2 separate regions of the Homo sapiens genome follow, and region 2 is linked to region 1. The links come from fine-mapping of genetic effects on gene expression. A gene starts in region 1. The other region holds a variant in brackets. All regions are shown on one strand. Distances are from middle to middle.

Region 1 (10,361 bases):
CACTAGGGTGGAGTTCTTGTCTATGCAGTCCTTTCTACTGTTAGCCCAGGTTTTCTCCTCATTTGTTGTAAAATAGTAGCAACTATTTTGGTACCATTGCCACATCTTAGGACATGGATTACATCTGTGGTCTGAAAAGGAAATTATACCCAATAATATAAACTGAAGACTCTAGAGTGACTGGAGAAGGCTTTGAAACAAAATCATGTAATTGAACAATAGGGACTGAGAGCCTGCACCCTGAAAGCATACTGCTTTAGAAGCCTCTGAAAAAAAAGTGACCCCTGGTTATGGGTTGGGGCAACAGGGATTCTCTTTTCATGGCTTAGTCTTCTGACCTCAGAATTACCAGCTATGCCTTTAAGCTTTCAGAGCAACATGATCACCTAGAAATAGTTAATAAAATGAGGGGTTGAAGTATCCAGATTGATATCATTCCAAGATACTTCCCAAATTTGCCTGTGGTTTCAAAAATATTAAATGAATTTGTATATTTCCTTGCTGTGTGTAAATTTAGTGCAACATCATTAAGGTTCACTGGATGACATAACTCTCTCAATACTCTTAGGTGGTACATGTGATCAACTTAGACCAGGATAACATATGCCATCTGACTGGTCAGCAGGACTAAGTCTGATTACCTGAAGTATGAATGATTAGCTCTTGGCACAGTTTGATGGCCATTTGTTCCTGCCTCTTCAGTACACTGGAGATCTGTGACTTGAGAAATTCCTCCTCCATGGACAAGTTGTTGGAGTTGCCCAGTTGCTGGGATAAGTTATCCTGCTGCTGTTGGATGGTTTTCTGAAGTTGACTCAATTTCTCTGAATCTGAGTTAATGTCATTAGATATCTGCAAAACTCCAAGACATGACAGGAGACAAGTTCATATATTCTTCTATTCTTATAACTGTAGATAATTCTCGTGACAGAAACATTTCTTAATTGTTCAAGATTTATTAGTAGCTCTTAGTATTTGAGGTATCATGAAAGAAACAAACCAGATGCCTTTCTATTCCAAATTATTTATAGTTCTTTATAATTTTATTTACATTTTTATTATTGCACTATATTAAAATAATGATTTAATAATGATATATTTCTGACATCACATCTAAGGAAGGGCCAGTCATTCTGCCACTCATTTTCATGAAATTGTTTTATTTTTGTTTTATTTTATTTGGAGATAGATGATGTAATTGTTGTTTTAATGAAAACAGCATTCTTTGGGACAATGGATATCTCAAACTCTGCAGATGACCTGAGATGCTTGTTTACCAAAAGAAAAGAAAAAGCAGATCTTAATGGCATATCAGACCATTTCTCGTCATGGGTCCATGAAATATGCCCTTTTCATAAGCATTTAAGGTGCTTCATCAGCACAACAAATTTAAGAACCACTGCACCAAAAGCACTAAATTTTAGAAAAGAAATGTCACCCTTCTATATCGAACCAATGGACGTACGTTATTGCATTTTCACTTAATTTTTAAATATACATTATTGTAGAAGATCGGCTGCTAATCCTCATACTGATTGGCTCCAGAATATCTGTTACTGCTGCTTGAACATCATATTCCTTTTCAAAAGAGCAAGGTACATCATTAGTCTCTTTTTATGTTGGCAAAGATATGTCCAAATCCTAATTAACCATTAAATCCTAAAAAATTATCCATTAAATCATTAAAAAGAAATGAATGTAGCAGAGGAGATGTTAGTATCATTCAGCAAATTAACTTTCTTGACTGTGAGTTCCCTGTAAGCGAATACCATGCCAATTCACTACTCTGTATACCATATACTTAACAACCCTATAAAGTTTGTATTCTCAGGATGTTTTTCTCATTACTCAAGAACTCCCTACCATGTTCATCCCCAACTTCCCGAGGATGGGTCAGAATCAATAGAATGTTCCTTTGTGGCTGTGGTGCTTGAGAGTGGAGCTTCCATTGTCATGTGGAGATGGTTCAACTCTCTTACTTGGTAAGGTGTATCAGGCCACTCTTCCTCTTTGTTTATATGTCTTTCTCATTCATAGAAATCAGGCTGCTGCTGCTACTTGGAAGATTTCTCTCCACTAGAGAAGTTTCATGTAAGCAGACTGAACCTAGTCTAGTGTTAAGTCTTTCAGGTAAATAAAAATAGCAAGCACTTCCTTCAATACATATTTCTTGACTTTATTTCTCAGCATTGGAATGATAAGTGAATGTGTGTCTAGGCAGAAAAGAGGCTCTTTATTCTAATGAATAACTGGAAACAAAGAGTCTTTGTCTAAGTCCAGTTTAGCTTATCAAGATAAAACAATGAATTTAGAACCAAATCCTGATAATGTCTTTTGCCGGTTTTTTGGGAAGATATGACGAATAGGAGAGATATGAGACAGCAGAAAAGTATCAGACGATTCAGGATGCTAGGACCCATCTACAATCCAAGCTGAAAGTACATGGTTTACAATATGTTTTCTAGTTGCCTTTGTTGGGTTTGATGCTGATATACTTACACATCATCCCCAATGTCACCAGCCCAATCAGCAACATCAGGCAAAGAGTTACCAGACCCAGAGCAGCATGACGCCAAATGGGAGATGGAGCTGGATGCCCTGGAGAAAGCCAAAAGAGCAATCAGCACACAGAACTGCTTTGTGCTTGTTTCACTTTGGTTTGTTTATTTCTCCCACTTAGGGAGCTTCCCGATACTAACGTTTCTTTCTTGCTTCTTTAATGCCCTCATTTAGAAAATACCTAATATGAAGTGCAATGAGGGTGCCATCCTTGTTTCCCCTCCATTTCTCCACCGCTCTCCTTCACTTTAAGAGGAAGCTTCGTTGGGGGAGGGGGGAGGCATACCTTTAGGAGATATACCTAATGCTAAATGACGAGTTAATGGGTGCAGCACACCAGCATGGCACATGTATACATATGTAACTAACCTGCACATTGTGCACATGTACCCTAAAACTTAAAGTATAATAATAATAAAATAAAAAGGAAGCTTCTCCTAATTTCAAGGTTTTTGTTTTACATCATTGCCCACTTTTCTTCCTCAAGTTTATTGAATTCATAAATGAGAGATCTAAAAACTGCTTTTCTGGATGATGCTGACAGTAGGAGACACCTCAAGCTTTTGAGCTCAAAAGTCTCTATAAGGCACATGTTCTATCTGCCTTGTAAAAGTGGATTCGACTTTTTAAAGTATCTTTTACCTGTTAACAATAACTTATCTATTATTCATGCTATTTATCACCTAATAAATAATGAATGAATACTGAATGAAAGAAGGAAAGAATGTGCAGTCTAACCTACAAACAGCAGAATAGACCAGAAAGCCGTTAGCATCCTAGTCATTGTTGTTGTTTAAAATATCAATGGTTGTCATGTTTTCCTTAGCTTCATATCCCTTGATTTAGGTCCAAATAACATCTAGCGCAATGTTTTAGATACAGCATGACAGACTCTAGGTACACTGTGATATGCACCATATCCACACCTCCTTTTTCCTCACAGGTTAGAATTAGAATTAAAAAGTAAAACAAAACAAGGCAAAAATGTGTAACCACATTTATTAGACATATGCAAAGTCTATTCCCATCGGCTTTTTGTAAATATCCTTCCCTCAAATGTCATGCACCACACAAAATGTAAAGATAAATCTAGAGGGCAGGAGAAAGTAGTTCAGATGACTGACATGATTCAGGAGAACCTGGATAGTTAACATATCTGAAAATAAGAGATGTGGTCTTATATATTAAATCAGAGTCTTGACCATGGAGACTGCTATTTTTCCAATTAGGCATAAGAGAATGAGCTGAAGACCAGCACTGAGACTGGGCTTCCCCACATAGCAGTTGTGTGAGCTTGCTTAAATTATCTAATTTCTCTCACCCTCAGTTTTTTCATCTATGTAATGGAGAAAATACTAATATTCGAATATTATTGTGGATTTTCATTACAATTATATCTGTATATAATGTACATAAAATACTACCCAGATACTATTATTACTGGTTCAACATTACAAATTATGCTCGGATTTCAACTACCCTAAAATTTGAAAAAATACTGACAAAAGAAAAATTAGCTCTGATCTATTTCTAATCCACTCACTCATCTTCCAGTTTTCTCTTAAGTAACTTACATCATCTAAAAGAAAAACGTCCTCTACCTTCTCTATTTTAGAAGCCTCCAATCTGGTTTCTGAAAGAATATCCTCCTGGCATCTCTAACAAGGTATAAATATCAAGGATTATATTCATAAGAAGAAATCTCTAATTCCCCAAGCTCAATTTCTGGCATGTGCAGTCAGAATTTCTCTGACTGTGTGATATCACACAACTTTAAAGAGGTTCTGAAAGCCACATATTTTCACTTCAACCTTGGGAACACTCACTTTTCTAATACATTCCACAACTATTTGTCCCCATTTTGGAGATTTCACAGCACATGTCTTTAACGCCAGTATTAAAGCTGGCACCTCAAAGCATTTAACACCTGTCCACTCCCCCAAGGACACAGCTGGTCTTCTCTGAACTCCTACCTCTTTTTCTTAGGTTATTTCCATCTCGGTTATTCCTTGCTCCAGCAGAATCCTGAAATGTGAGTGTCGCGTAGGTCACTTCTTCAGACATTGTAGAAGAAAACGCTACTTTAAATTATCTAATTAATGTTTCAATATCTTGAGGCCTGGGAACAGCATGTGTTTTTCAAGGCTGGGAGCTTTGATGTAGTCACTCAGCTGACCCAGACACACTCTACTGCCCCTCTGTAAGAGAAGAATGACAATTTGTTTCTCTACAGAGAAAGTGAGAAAAGCCAAATATTCTCCTTAGAGATATTCTCATTAGAATGTTACAGATCTCAAACTGTCTGCTCTGTCAGAACTGTTTCTTGCTGTGCAGCAAAGAAGGGGTGCTTGAGGCAGAGCAGGAGGAACATGAGGGAATTCCCATGATCCTCGGGGTAGAGGATGCTCTGAATGTTTCAGAAAAGAGTCAGGTTGTCTTCTTTACATCTATCTAAGGCTAGCTAATCTGCCTGGAGACATTGGTTCTAGTTTATTCTCAGCCACATTAGATATTAAGCAGAGAGACACACATTAAGACAGAAAGAGCTGTGCCACACACCTGGCTGCTATTATAGAAAATTCAAGCGTGTGTGTGTGTGTGTGTGTGTGTGTGTGTGTGTGTGAGAGAGAGACAGAGAGAGACAGAGAGAGAGAGACAGAGAGAGAGAGACATGGTGTTGGTAATGGAGCATGGAGAAGAAACTGATAGCTACTTAGCTACTTAACGTGAGTATGAATGGGAGTGCCCTCTTCTGGCATGGTTGGGAAAGTTCCTAACAGAACAACAACCATGGGATAATCCTGCAGACAGCAAGGAATACACAGGACAAGATTTTAAAAAGATAACTACCGGAAGTTAATACATCTGTGGTAATTTGTTACAGCAGCAATATGTAGTTAATACAGAACCCAGGAAAATATGGGGGGGGAGCGCTATATATGAGGGACGAAATTAAGGAATCTCCTCTAAAGCTTTCCTTTGGGGAGAGGCAGAATATTAGATAACTGTACTTAGGGGAAGGATTGGGTATGAGTTTTGTGGTTTCAGATGAGTGGGGAGTGATCTAAAACTTCCAAGGTTCATATCTGTGTGGAGATTATCTTAGTCAAAGGTGTCCAGCGTGAGGTGCACTCACCCCACAGCTGTGAAGCAGATGCAGAAAGGCAATGTAAAAACTTTCTCTTTAGGAACGCTGTGCATGATCTCTAAACACCTAAATATACATATGTTACTTGTTCATGTTTTTTGTTTTTTTTTTTTTCAAATTGATGAAATAATCAAAAAAATGTTTGGAGGCTCTAAGTCATATATCAATAAAACTCCACTATCAAAAATATTGAAACAAATAATAAATCTATGCTTATGTTTACTATTCTAGTTGAATTCAGAAAAGGCAGAGACCATTGACATGAGGACCAGTTTAAATAGATGATTACAAAAATAAGAAATTAAGAATGGTTTTCTATCTCTGTTCTGGTCCGTGTCCGGAGTTGGTTCCTGCCGGTGGGTTCCTGGTCTCGCTGACTTCAAAAATGAAGCCGCGGACCTTTGCGGTGAGGGTTACACCTCTTAAAGATGGCACGGACCCAAAGACTGAGTGGTAGCAAGGTTTATTGTGAAGAGCAGGATGACAAACCTTCCACAGCATGGAAGGGGTCCCAAGCGGGTTGCTGCTGCTGGCTGGGGTGGCTAGCTTTTATTTCCTTACTGTCCCCTCCATGTTCCGTTTCTGTCGTATCAGACTGACCTTTTTTCAATCCTCACCGCAATTGGCTACTTTTAGAATCCTGCTGATTGGTGCGTTTTACAGAGCGCTGATCGGTGCGTTTTACGTGGCACTGATTGGTGCGTTTTACAATCCTCTTGTAAGACAGGAAAGTTCCCTGAGTCCCCACTCGATTCAGGAAGTCTGGCTGGCCTCACGTCTCATGACTTTCACCAGATTTTGCAAAAACTGGGTTTTCATCCTCATTTCCTTAATTCTTTCACATACCTTAAAGCTTCCTAACAAAGTATTAACTTCTCACTATCCATGAAATGATGCTTAGCTTGAACAATGATGAAGAATGTCACCTGATTCCTAATTATTTCTAAGAGAAGATTGATAACACTTCTCACATACTTTCTATTATTATGATCCAAAAAGCTATATCATCTATCATTATTAGTGTATGATCATATTAATTTAGACATTTCTTTATATACTTTTCTCCCTTAAAAACTTACAGCATTTCTGTAGCTTATTTTATCAGTTACACTATTTAAAAACTCACTTTGTTGCAGTCATTTACCAAATTCTCCTTATTTCTTCATTATTTTTTCAACTATCTTAAATCTTATTGATCTCTACTCCTATCATGATTATCATGTGATTTCGACATTCAGGTAGGTGATAATTCCAATACTATGGGCTCTCAGTTCTTGAATTTGCCTCCAATAACCTTACCCACACTCAGAAATCAGTTGCTCACACACAAAAATCAGTCACCCACTAGATGATCCTAGTTTAGAGCTAGGCTATTCACCGTAGTAATCACTAGGCATATAATTGCTATTTAAACTTAAATTAATTAAAATTAAATTAAATTTAAAATTTATTTCCTAGGTCACACTAGTCATACTTCAGGTACTTAACAGCCACAGGTGGCATTGGCTATGCAATTGGACAGTGCAGGTAAATAACATTTCCATTATTAGCAACGTGGCTATTGAACAGCACTGCACTAGAGTGCAGACAATTTCATTTCCAATATGAGAAATTCTTCCATGATCTGTTTCAGATATTTCACTCTCTGACCTCCACCTCCTATGTTTCCAGCCCACTCTCTCTGGGTATTCTACACTCTACAGCATTTCAGTGCCCACTGAGATAGCAACTTCACTGACCATGCCAACTTCTCATTGTTGTCAATCCCTCATGTCTCATTTCCTATTATACCCAGCATGCACCACTTACCAGGGCCAATTATAAAAATCGTTTTCTTACCCACAGCTACAACTTCCTTGCTTACCTCTTCATTCATCATAAGCATCTAGAAAATGCAGCTTGTTTAAATCCAACCCTACCTACTCTGTGCATACATTCAAGTAGCTGAATGTGATCATATTAACTGGTTTTATCTTACGTTTTTGAAATGTAACTTCTCAGCACTCTTACTAATCAATCTGTTCTGCAAATCTCCTAAAAGATTATTCCCAATCTCTTTTTCTTTCTCAGACTCTCAAATTTCTTTCTGTCTTCTCTTTCTACAAACTAAACGGATAACCTGGCTTTTCCATTAACATTATCTTAAGAAAAAAAAGAAATTCAGAAAGAAGTTTTCTCTGTTTCACTAGTCAAATATACCAAAACAGCTACATCAGTATATGAGGTAGTATTCTTTTCAACAGTGGTTGAATTGTACTACTCATCTAAGATCAATCTCCATCTGTATATTAAAATCCATCCACCTATCTCCTTAAAGATTTCAAGCTTGTAATTTTCCTTCTTTTTCTCTTTCTATCAATTTTTCCATTTTTTTCATCTCTACTTGTTCACTTATGTTCACTTCCAAAGATGATATAATATCTCCTATATTAAAACAAGCAGAAGCCATCTTTTGTTCACCGTAACACCATACACATGATCACTCCATTTCTCTAATTTTCTTAACAACAAATGGGTTCAAAAATTTCTCTATGATCTTCCCAAACCTATTCTAATTAGGCTTTTTCCTTCACTATTTCTTTTTTTTCTTTTTTTATTTTTATTCTTTCTTTTTTTTTATTGAGACAGAGTCTAGCTCTGTTGCCCAGGCTGGAGTGCAGTGGCGCGATCTCGGCTCACTGCAAGCTCCGCCTCCCAGGTTCATGCCATTCCCCTGCCTCAGCCTCCAGAGTAACTGGGACTACAGGCGCCTGCCACCCCGCCCGGCTAATTTTTTGTATTTTTAGTAGAGACGGGGTTTCACCGTGTTAGCCAGGATGGTCTCGATCTCCTGACCTCGTGATCTGTCCCCCTCGGCCTCCCAAAGTGCTGAGATTACAGGCGTGAGCCACCACGCCTGGCCCTTCTTTCACTATTTCTAAAAAACACTCCTGCTAAAGTCAACATTACCTCAGTATAAACACATCCAATGGCTAGTTCTCAGGATTCATCTTACACATCGTATAAACAGAATTTTAAATAACTGATTATTCACTTTTCGTGACAAACTTTCTTCTCCAAAATGCTTTGTTCCCTAGGACACCATTCTCTTGGTTTTCCTTTTGCTTCACTCACAACCCAATCCTCCCTCAGATTAACTGATTCCTCTTTAAATTAATTTAAGATGTTGTTGTGTCCTAGAGTTCAATTCTTGGTCTTCTTAAAAAAAAAACAAAAAACTTATCCTGGAATGAACTAAATTGAATAGTACCCAGAGAATGGCCAGAATGGGAATTAATTTCTTATAGATTCGTGCCTTGAGATAACAGCCATACATTGATAATGTCCAAAAATTGTTATCTCCATACCAGCGCTTGATCTACAGGACCACGTATCTGAATGGATTCTTGGCATATTCACTTTGATATATTATAGGATTTTCTAGCTTAACACATCAAAAAATGGGTACCTTTTCCCAATGTGTTTCTTCATCTTAACAAATGTACACTCCATACGTACAGTTTCTCAGCTAAAAACTTGGAATCACCTTTGACAATTCTTGCTGCTCTCACATGAATTAAACTTGTCAGAAAATATTGTTCACCTTGGAAAATATGGAAACACAGTTATTAAATGTGGAAGTATTATTGATTTAGAAGATCTTAAAAGAAATATTGAGTTAACATGACAGAAGGATTCATTCTCACTCTGTTCTTTCTGTTCTCACATTTCATGCCTATTTCAGAGGACACTTTTAAAGTGGGGTTTAAATGGGAAAGTACCCAGAGAATGGCAAGAATGACAATTAATTCCGAATTATTTACAAAAAAGAAATAGGGAAAAGTGAAGATGAAAGCCAGAGGTATCAAAGACTTAAAGGAAACAAAAATAAACTAAAAGCAGAAGGAAAATAAATGGCCACAAGAAGGAGACAGAGGATGAATATAGGATGGAATTTATTTTGAAATGTATTAATATATTTACCCCATCAGGTGAATATACCTGACCAGCATAATAAAATATCCCAATTAAAATGAAGCACTATGAAGACAGACAAATTGATTCAAATCCTGGAGCAACACTTACTTGCCTTGTGGCTTTCGGCAAGTTATTGAACCTCTGTGCTTTATTTTTCTTAATAGTAAATCTGTCATAAATTTAATTCCTGCCACAAATATAACTGATAAAAGCATATAGAAAGAGCAATAAATGGCAGCTGTCATCGTAGAAGCAAGTTTGGATTATTCTGGATCATATTAAAAATGGAAGAAACCTGGGCAATTGTCCAAGCACTGACAGTGAAGCTTAAACAAACCAATCCTCATGAGCACAACGAGGGTCTGCTTGAGCCTGTCCAGAAGAACTCGATTATATCACTTTTCTTCATTCATAACACTTTCCATGATATACAATTATCTTGATCTTTGCTTTCTATGTTTCTTTACTATCTGTGCTGACCACCTTCTACTATAATATAAGCTAAATGCTTGTATAATTCATTAACCATTGGTCCCCAGAAAATAGAATTGTGCCTTGGACATCTGCAGTGATCAGTAAACATATGTTCAAATAAATGATTAATTAATAGTCCCTGCCATGAAGTTTTATAGTAATTTTAATTGGAAAGTACAATAGTAGATATACTTAACATTCTGTGAATCCTTAATTCAAATAT
Region 2 (10,361 bases), 52 kb after region 1:
TCAGCTTAATCTCTCCCACTCTAGGTTCCCACATCGCCCCTAATCCCGCTGGAAGCAGCCCTGAGAAATATCGCCCGTTATCTCTCCATACCAAGCCCCCAAAATTTTTGCCGTCCCAACACTTTACCACTATTTCATTTTTATTTTCTTATTAATATAAGGAGACAGGAATGTCAGGCCTCTGAGCCCAAGCTAAACCATCCTATCCCCTGTGACCTGCACATACACATCCAGATGGCCGGTTCCTGCCTTAACAGATGACATTCCACTACAAAAGAAGTGAAAATGGTCTGTTCCTGCCTTAACTGATGACATTATAAAATTCCTTCTCCTGGCTCATCCTGGCTCAAAAGCTCCCCCACTGAGCACCTTGTGGCCCCCACTCCTGTCCGCCAGAGAACAAGCCCCCTTTGACTGTAATTTCCCACTACCTACCCAAATCTTATAAAACAGCTCCACCCCTATCTCCCTTCGCTGACTCTCTTTTCGGACTCAGCCCACCTGCACCCAGGTGAAATAAACAGCCTTGTTGCTCACACAAAGCCTGTTTGGTGGTCTCTTCACACGGATGTGAGTGAAAGTTATAACGGAAAAAAGGGAAAGAAATGAAGACAGGTGAAGAAAAGTGCACAGGGATAAAAATTTGGAGACACACACCTTCAGAGTCACATAATTTAAAAGTTGAGAGACCACAGTGACAGTGATATACTCAGGTACCAAAAAGAAACACACACTTGGGATCCAAAAAAAAAAAAAAAAAAGAAAAAACCGGTTATACATTAAAAGGAAAATTTAAGAAGATAAAATAACAGGACAATTTACAAGATAGAGATAAGACCAAAGGAAACCATGAGGGATAGTGAAATACCCCAGGGCTAGCTACTGCCGGAAGCCATTACTACATTAGGCCTGAGAGAACATTGCTGGTAGCAATTAACTGAAGCAGCAGAAACTATAGCTGATGAAGGCTGCCTCCCTGGAGGTACACTCAGCGAGAACAACTCCATATCCATTTCCTAGTGCTGTAGGGAAGGATTCTCCCACCTTTAAATCTTTTGCCTATTCTTCCTATTAGCACAAACATACCTAGAGCTTCAGGACAATAGTGTCCAGGGATATTATACATGAGAGTCAGTCACCATCCTAGGGCACTGCAAAGGGATTAGAATGGTGAAGAGTAGATTTATTGAAATCATTTTCTGAACCATATGTAGGCCAGTTTTTATCATTTGGCTTGTCAATTGGTGTTTTGATATTTAATTCTTTTTTTTTAGGTTGTCTCATAATTTTTTATTAAATAACAGGCCTTATGTATTAAAAACAGAAATTTTAAATGATCTTCCTACCAAAAAGTTTTGTTTCTTTTTTTCTGGCAGTCACACAGAATATAAGCGGTAAACCTTGATTAATTGGAGCCCCTCAAATTTTGCCTTCTCAGTTGTTTTATACATTTTATCTAAATTTTATAATTATCTTTTTGTAGGTTTCTTTCATCTGATACAAGTTGCAATGCTATGACTAGGATTGGCTTTATTCTGGCTTTGTTCTCCAACAAACTAAAATTGGGAGGTTATATAGTGAGGAAGGAATGTAGCTATGTGCAGGCAGAAATGTAGCTGTGTGGGGAGTGTAAACCAAAAATGAAATTCTAAGGCCCCTCAACCATCTGAATGGACTCCCTCTTCAACCACAGCTCTTTGAAAATTTAACCTGAGAGATGGGTTCAGGCCATGACAGGAAGTGCGTGTCGAACACGCTTCATTATATCTCTCAGGCATTAATACTTAAGTCTCTCTCAAGTCTGCTGTCTGGAGGCTTCATTTGCATGATAAAACCTTGGTCTCTACAACCTCTTACCACAACCCAGACATTTCTTTTCTATTGATTCCAGACCTTTAGATAAACTCAACCAATTGCCAATCAGTAAATGTTTATAGTTGATTGAAGCCTCGTGTCTCCCTAAAATGTACAAAACCAATGTGTACCTGAACCACCTTGGGTGCATGTTCGCAGGGCCTCCTGAGGGCTGTGTCACGGGCATGGTCACTCATATTTGGCTCAGAATAAATCTCTTCAAATATTTTACAGAGTTTGATGCTACGTGGACAGGGGAAAAATAGAAATTAGGCAGAGGTAGGGAAAAAATCATGCTGGGTGAAGGATCTGCAGTCTCATTGCCTGGGTGTGGTGCTCTGATGAGTTTCAGTTCCTTGCCTGAAAGTCGGTTTTCTAAGCAAGAAACTCAGGAAAACAAACAAGTTTCAAGTTTTAAGACCAGACAGGGTCCATTTCTATGTTCCAAAGCAAAACAAACAAAAACAACTGTAAATATTAGTTCTATAAGATAACGGGGCCGGTTTCAGTCTCTCTTTTCTATTTATCACTTCCTCAATCATGGAGAATCTGGTCATTGATCCTTCTGGCTGCTTCATGCTGAGGACGTGTGAGGTGGAATAATGATAAGGAATGGAAATGTGGCACTATAATCAGAAGTAGTCATTGGAGCACTATGATCTGGGTACTTTTATTTCAGTTTTAGAACAACGTTTTAGGCCACATTGAACAAGGATGATAAATAATATAGATAAACCAATTTTAAAATACCAGAGAATTTGGAGTGGATCCCTTGGGGAATCCAAGAGAACAATCCTAAGCCTACCAAAAAGTATTCCTGATTCATTATATCTTATATGTGAAAAGCTGTGGGTTTAAAGAGAATAATAACTGAAAAATGCATATTCCTTTTACAGTTTCTTATCTAGGATCTTTGGCTGGGCTTTCAATATTAACTTAAGGCCATGTATAGGTTCACAAGAGCATGACTGTTTCCCCTGGAGGGATCCCACAGTGACTAGTTTTACTGAGTATGTTGAATTCATGGTTTAACACTGGCTAACTTGATAGACGAGTGGGTGGTCAGCAGCACCTTAAAAAGACTGACCTATTGTGGTTGCAGCTAGTCTTCAGCCTGATGGGATTTCCAGGTCTTCAGTATGATTCGATTCCCTGGTTTCAAACAGGGAAGAGGCAAGTCCATACAGAAATGAAGTCTGTTGGAGAGACTAGTTAATATATTCCCTAATTGTTTCATGTATGACATAGCTTCTGTTTCAGGGGAGGAAAAAATCCTCAAGCATCAGAGAGTCCAGGAAAACAGTCTCCAAGTAAACATTTTGAAAGGGGCTAAGAGCTAATCCATTTCTGGGAGCTACCAGTACCCTCAGCAGGGCAAGGGGCAAGACCTTTTCCCAGGTAAGATTTATCTCTTGGAAACTGAGGTCTCCTTGGAATATGCCAGAGGGAGCATTGATTGCCAAACTTTATTTTGTTCCATATCATTTCCAAGGTGGTATGACTACCTGCCCCGAGTCCATCCTGTTCGTCAGTGGGACCCCTGTAACCAAGGGACTTAGAGTCAAAAAAGACTTATAGTCAATTAAACATTCTAGGCCACACAAGAATAGAGGTGCCAGGGACTCATTACCATTAAAACTCAAAGCAACGAAAGAGCCAAAAACCAAAAAGTAAGGTTAATATTTCTTTCTTCTTTTTTTTTTTTTTTGAGACAGAGTTTCGCTCTTCTCTCCCAGGCTGGAGTGCAGTGGCACAATCTCTACTCACTGCAACCTCCGCCTCACTGGTTCAAGAGATTCTCCTGCCTCAGCCTCCAGAGTAGCTGGGGTTACAGGTGCCCGCCACCACGCCCAGCTAATTTTTTGTATTTTTAGTAGACATGGGGTTTCATCATGTTGGCCAGGCTGGTCTCAAACTCCTGACCTCATGTGATCCACCCGCCTCAGCCTCCCAAAGTGCAGGGATCACAGGAGTGAGCCACCACGCCCAGCCAAGTTAATATTTCTATCATTGTTCCTGGACCAAACTGAGGGTCAGACTGCTATTTCTTCCAGCCCAGTAACAAGATGCAGATGAACTGGGGAGGAAGAGTTTTTATTTCTTTAACAAGTTATAGGGAGAAGGCCTGGAAAATATTGCCAGACCAACTCAAAATTACAAAGTCTTCCAGAGCTTATTACCTTCTAAGTTATATGTCTGTGTGTAAGTGCATTCATCTAAAAACATGAGTGATTAACTTCTTGTAATCTATAACTGAGATCTGAGTTCTGAAGACCTTCCTCTGGAGGCTTAGTAAATTTACTTAATCTATATGGGTCCAGGTGCTGGGGTGATTACCCTATCTTGTCTCCTGCTAAATCATGGAGGTTTGGGAACTTCCTTGAGATCTCCAATAAACTTGTCTGTGGAAGCCTGGGAAGTTTCTTCAGACTGCCGGTAAAACTTGTTTAATCCTAATCTGGTCCTGTTAAGAATTCCTTCATTATCTTGTCATGGGTCCAAGCCCCAGGAAAGTCCTAGGCAAAACTCGTGGTGGGCTTTTGTTACAATCCAGAGTTTG[T/C]ATAAGGCCACTGGCTTTTTTACCTTTTAACATTTAACTTAACCACTCAGTCAGTACTGAAACAGTTGTTATGGAGGCCTGCATTAGTGACCTGGCCTGCCACATCATTATAAAGCCAGTCCCCCGTGGCTTACATTTGAAGCATATCTGTTGCTTCATCTGGAGTGCTCCACTTGGCATTTATAGGTGGAGTGGGACAATTCTCCTTCTCAGAGTAAATAGTTCTCACAGTGTTTTATCCAGTCCACCAAGTAGGCTGTTCTTTTGGGAATAACCTCCTGTGTGCCCGGATTATATGTACCCATCTGCAACTGTTCAATTGTGAGCCGTGGGTTCTGTATCAACCGGATCTTCCACTCTGCAGCATTTAAAACCAAAGACATTGTGCCTAAAGTAATTACTCTCACAATTTATTTTAGTAAAGGTTCAGGAAGCTAATGATACTGATTTGCAAAATAGAACAATTCCTTCACATTATACCCTCTAGTTTCAGAAGTCACTTTAATTCACTCCTTCCCCACATTGACTACCTTCCAGGAAACCACAGATCTCAGAGGTACTTTCTGGTTTCCTGGCATAATTTTCTTCTTCATGAGCAGCCTTGAGGCTAGTGATCTGAGTTCAGACAGACCCACATCTAGGCTTGGTTTGGCCTCAAAGCCTGACCCAATATTCTCCTACTTTAATTTTAGCTATTACAGATGTGAAAGGAAAATAAATCTTGGGGTCCCCAAATCACTAAGCCAAAGAGAGAAGTCAAGCTGGGAATTGTGTCAGGCAAACCTGGCTCCCATTTTATTCGATTGAATTTCACCCTGGCAATGTAAATTGATAGCTTATCTTCACAGGTATGGGACAAAGGATAGAACTTGAAGTCAACCCTCTGCTCATCTGAAACAAATGCATATCTGATTGCTTCCTCTGCCCTTTCGTTTGTATAAAAATGCAGATTCACTGATCTAGACTGAGGCATAAGTGACTATTTCTTTACCCCACTCTCACATGTAATTGTGTATTTAGTGAAAGTCTGATCAAAATCTCAAAAGAATACAACCATTTGTCTCTTATCTACCCACACCTTTTTTTTGTTTTTTTGTTTTTTTTTTTTTTGAGATGAAGTCTCACTCTGTCATCACCCAGGCTGGAATGCAGTGGCACGATTTTGGCTCACTGCAACCTCTGTCTCCCGAGTTCAAGTGATTCTCCTGCCTCAGCCTCCTGAGTAGCTGGGATTACAGCCGTGCACCACCACACCCAGCTAATTTTTGTATTTTTAGTAGAGATGGGGTTTGTCCATGTTGGTCAGGCTAGTCTCAAACTCCTGACCTCAGGTGATCTGCCCACCTTGGCCTCCCAAATTACTGGGATTACAGGCATGAGCCACCGCCCTACCCACACCTTTTTAAAATTTCTTCCTCTTTCCCCAATATCTGCCCTTTCCCCTTTAAATATTGAAGCCCTCAAAAGCATCTTTGGAGAAAGGCACAGACTTGTGTTTCAGGCACATATCCCTACCCTTGGCAAAATAAACTTTGAAATTAATTGAGACCTACCTCAGATACATTTTGGTTTATATCGATAACAAAAACCAAGGGATTGAAAATTTTGCTTTTTTAAAAATTAGTTTTTATTTCCTTATGCATCCAGTGAACCAACTTCTGAGGTGATGAATCCATATCTAAATTCCACTGGTAACTTATACTTTTAATAACTGAATGCAGCACAGCACAGATGTATCTCCATACCATGGATGACCAGGTTGCCATAGGTCAAAGATTAATCTAATAACAGGTGTACTGCAGTTTTCTTCCAAAACATAATGTTTCTCTCTCCAGCTCCCCATTTCCATGAAAGGCAAATCACAGTAGGACCAATTTATTTGCAAAATCTGTTTTAATCTTATTATAGTTTGCCTGATTATTTGCATAAACTGAAGCAAGAATTATTGTTCATATAGGCTTTTTTAAATTGGCTTTGCTGGAACTTTTCATAAGGAATCTCAGATTTGATTTTTAAAGGCCTCTCGAGCACAACCAATAATTGATCTGTGCTTGCAGATACCTGTATGAATTGGGTGAATTCCTCTTTTCTTGAGGTCCCAAAACAACTTGAGTTTTCTGGGCCTGAGAACATTCATGTTTCTCATCTATAAAATGTTAATATCTGATAGACAGCCCAGGATTTCTTGCTTCCTAGGTTTCCATTAAAATTTAGGATTACTAAGAATAAGAATTCCAGCAAATTGTATGATTCCATGTACAATGTGCCAAAGAAGATGTGTTCTTATTGATTAAAGAAATAATTTTGTTTAACTCAGAAGTTATCTAAAGGTTAATTCAAATTATAGACTTAGGTTGTTTATGAAACAGGGTAGAAAGGATCCAGTAACTAGGGGAGAGAGATATAGATTAGTCCCCTGGGTTAGAACAAGGTTTTCTTAAAATATTGATTGGATGAGAGGTTTTGATTTTGACTCTATAATCTGTTACTTTTTGAATACTTCTCAGATCTATATCTCCAAAGTGCAGCTTTCTTGTGTTTTGTTGCTGTCAGCTTGTCTCCCCTTGAAGGAACCTGAAATGAAACTATCTCCTTCAACTTTGTCAGTTCTTGTATCTTTTTTTTCCCTCTTGCCTTAACTGCTGTCATGGTCTGATGCTGAAATATTTATTTTAAAATTCTAGAGAAGCAACGTTTTCCTCCAGTATAGCTTGATTCTGTCCTCTTGGCTTTTCTTGATATGTCTACATCATTTATCAGGTTTGATTTTCAGGTTTTCGAGATGGGACTCTGATAGGAGAAGCAATCACACTGCAGGAGGTTTTTCTTTGCCTTTTGGTAACTGACCTGAGAAACAAATTTTACATTTTATCAAAATAATTTCTATGTCATTGTTATTGGGTTTTTGATTGCTTAGGAAAACTGAGATTTAAAGGAATTAAGGTTTTTACATCATTTAACTTTCTGTATTGAAACCCTTTCATAATTGGAAATGACCCACACATCTCATGAGCATCCAAAATAACTTCAAGATATTAAATTACACAAAAAGTTCACTTAGAGCATTTATGCCATTTATATTTCATTCACTTTTTTAGCAATTATCTATATTACTTATGAGAAAAGAGATATCAAAGCTATTCATTATTTCCTTGTTAACCATTTTTATAACTTGTATATATTAGATGTTCACCTAAGTAAGAAACATAAAGTTGGCTGGGCATGATTGCTTACACCTGTAATCCCAGCACTTTGGGAGGCTGAGGCAGGAGGATCATGAGGTCAGGAGATCAAGACCATCCTGGCTAACATGGTGAAACCTCTTCTCTACTAAAAAATACAAAAAATTAGCCGGGCGTGGTGGCGGGCGCCTGTGGTCCCAGCTACTCAGGAGGCTGAGGCAGGAGAATGGCGTGAACCCGGGAGGCAGAGCTTGCAGTGAGCCGAGATCGGGCCACTGCACTCCAGCCTGGGCGACAGAGTGAGACTCCGTTTTTAAAAAAAAGAAACATAAAGTAAAATACATGGATACTTGCACCAATAATGCAAAAGTTTCAGCTATTTTTATTAACCTAACGACATTAAATTAGTCTTATTTATCAAAAAATCACACAAAGATAATTTTGTTCTTGGCTGGGTTTATAGTCTTATAATCTCTTTGTCAAACCCTGACACCTTTAAATATCTAGCAGAGACAAATGTAAAACCCAAACAAAAAAAGTATGCTGACAATTCCAAAGGCATTTCTATTTTTATTTTACAAATGATCTAAAAGCTCTCTTGTTTATTAAAGATTTACTTAAGTCATGTAAACTTGAAAAATGCTTAGACTCATTTACTTAATTTATGAACGCTTTTTAATTTATAAGCCAATTTGCTACCCTCTAAAAACAACACGTAACATCTAGACACATATACCTACATACACACAAAGATCCAATAGCTTTTACCTTTAAATTCCAGCCATGAGATAGCAATGCAAACTCACTGGTTTATGAACATGTTCACATGGTTGAACTTTATTTGTTCTGATAGGTAATCCAATAAAGGTTGTGAAACAAAATTTTGAATAAAGCAGTTTCCATGATAGTTTGATTATTTTTTTTTTTGAGACAGGATCTCCGTCACCCAGGCTGGAAGTGCAGTGGTGTGATCAAGGCTCACTGCAGCCTCAACCTCCCAGGCTCAGGTAATCCTCCCACCTCAGCCTCCTGAGTAGCTGGGACTACAGGTATGCACCATTACACCCAGCTAATATTTGTATTTTTTGTAGAGACAGGGTTTCACCATGTTGCCCAGGCTGGTCTCGAACTCCTGGGCTCAAGTATCTGCCCACCTCAGTTTCTTGCGCCCAGCTGACAGTTTGATTTTTTTTTTTTTTTTTTTTTTTTTTTTATTGATAATTCTTGGGTGTTTCTCACAGAGGGGATTTGGCAGGGTCATGGGACAATAGTGGAGGGAAGGTCAGCAGATAAACAAGTGAACAAAGGTCTCTGGTTTTCCTAGGCAGAGGACCCTGCGGCCTTCCGCAGTGTTTGTGTCCCTGATTACTTGAGATTAGGGATTGGTGATGACTCTTAACGAGCATGCTGCCTTCAAGCATCTGTTTAACAAAGCACATCTTGCACCGCCCTTAATCCATTTAACCCTGAGTGGACACAGCACATGTTTCAGAGAGCACAGGGTTGGGGGTAAGGTCACAGATCAACAGGATCCCAAGGCAGAAGAATCTTTCTTAGTGCAGAACAAAATGAAAAGTCTCCCATGTCTACTTCTTTCTACACAGACACGGCAACCATCCCATTTCTCAATCTTTTCCCCACCTTTCCCGCCTTTCTATTCCACAAAGCCGCCATTGTCATCCTGGCCCGTTCTCAATGAGCTGCTGGGCACACCTCCCAGACGGGGTGGTGGCCGGGCAGAGGGGCTCCTCACTTCCCAGTAGGGGCGGCCGGGCAGAGGCGCCCCTCACCTCCCGGACGGGGCGGCTGGCCGGGCAGGGGGCTGACCCCCCCACCTCCCTCCCGGACGGGGCGGCTGGCCAGGCAGAGGGGCTCCTCACTTCCCAGTAGGGGGCGGCCGGGCAGAGGCGCCCCTCACCTCCCGGACGGGGCGGCTGGCTGGGCGGGGGGGCTGACCCCCCCCACCTCCCTCCCGGACGGGGCGGCTGGCCAGGCGGGGGGCTGACCCCCCCACCTCCCTCCCGGACGGGGCGGCTGGCCAGGCGGGGGGCTGACCCCCCCACCTCCCTCCCGGACGGGGCAGCTGGCTGGGCGGGGGGGCTGACCCCCCATCTCCGTCCCAGACGGGGTGGCTGGCCGGGCTGAGGGGCTCCTCACTTCCCAGTAGGGGGGGGCGGGCAGAGGCGCCCCTCACCTCCTGGACGGGGCGGCTGGCCGGGCAGGGGGCTGACCCCCCCACCTCCCTCCCGGACGGCATGGCTGGCCAGGCGGGGGGCTGACCCCCCACCTCCCTCCCGGATGGGGCGGCTGGCCGGGCGGAGGGCTAACCCCCCCCACCTCCCTCCCGGACGGGGTGGCTGCTGGGCGGAGACGCTCCTCACTTCCCAGATGGGGTGGCTGCCGGGCGGAGAGGCTCCTCACTTCTCAGACGGGGCGGCTGCCGGGCGGAGGGGCTCCTCACTTCTCAGACGGGGTGGTTGCCAGGCAGAGGGTCTCCTCACTTCTCAGACGGGGCGGCCGGGCAGAGACGCTCCTCACCTCCCAGACGGGGTCTCGGCCGGGCAGAGGCGCTCCTCACATCCCAGATGGGGCGGCGGGGCAGAGGCGCTCCCCACATCTCAGACGATGGGCGGCCGGGCAGAGACGCTCCTCACTTCCTAGATGTGATGGCGGCTGGGAAGAGGCGCTCCTCACTTCCTAGATGGGATGGCGGCCGGGCGGAGACGCTCCTCACTTTCCAGACTGGGCAGCCAGGCAGAGGGGCT

The links.
Region 2: its variant is fine-mapped to the expression of CLEC12B in whole blood (INTERVAL, PIP 0.97). The same link has a PIP of 0.9 or more in monocytes.

The regions. Positions count from the first base shown.
Region 1 is chr12:10,005,022-10,015,382 of GRCh38, reverse strand. CLEC12B (C-type lectin domain family 12 member B) reads right to left here and starts at 4,756. Exons shown (of 6, transcript NM_001129998.3): 1 at 4,533-4,756; 2 at 2,500-2,598; 3 at 642-860; 4 at 1-131. The coding sequence starts at 4,623. LOC102724020 (a long non-coding RNA gene) reads left to right here. Exons shown (of 4, transcript NR_169587.1): 4 at 1-497. It also overlaps a transcript of CLEC12A not described here.
Region 2 is chr12:9,952,654-9,963,014 of GRCh38, reverse strand. It overlaps LOC124902874 (a long non-coding RNA gene), which reads right to left. Exons shown (of 2, transcript XR_007063207.1): 1 at 9,978-10,361; 2 at 6,018-7,261. CLEC12A-AS1 (CLEC12A antisense RNA 1) reads left to right here and starts at 9,678. Exons shown (of 3, transcript NR_135047.1): 1 at 9,678-10,361. It also overlaps a transcript of CLEC12A not described here. The variant T/C (reference allele first, on the strand shown) is at 4,415.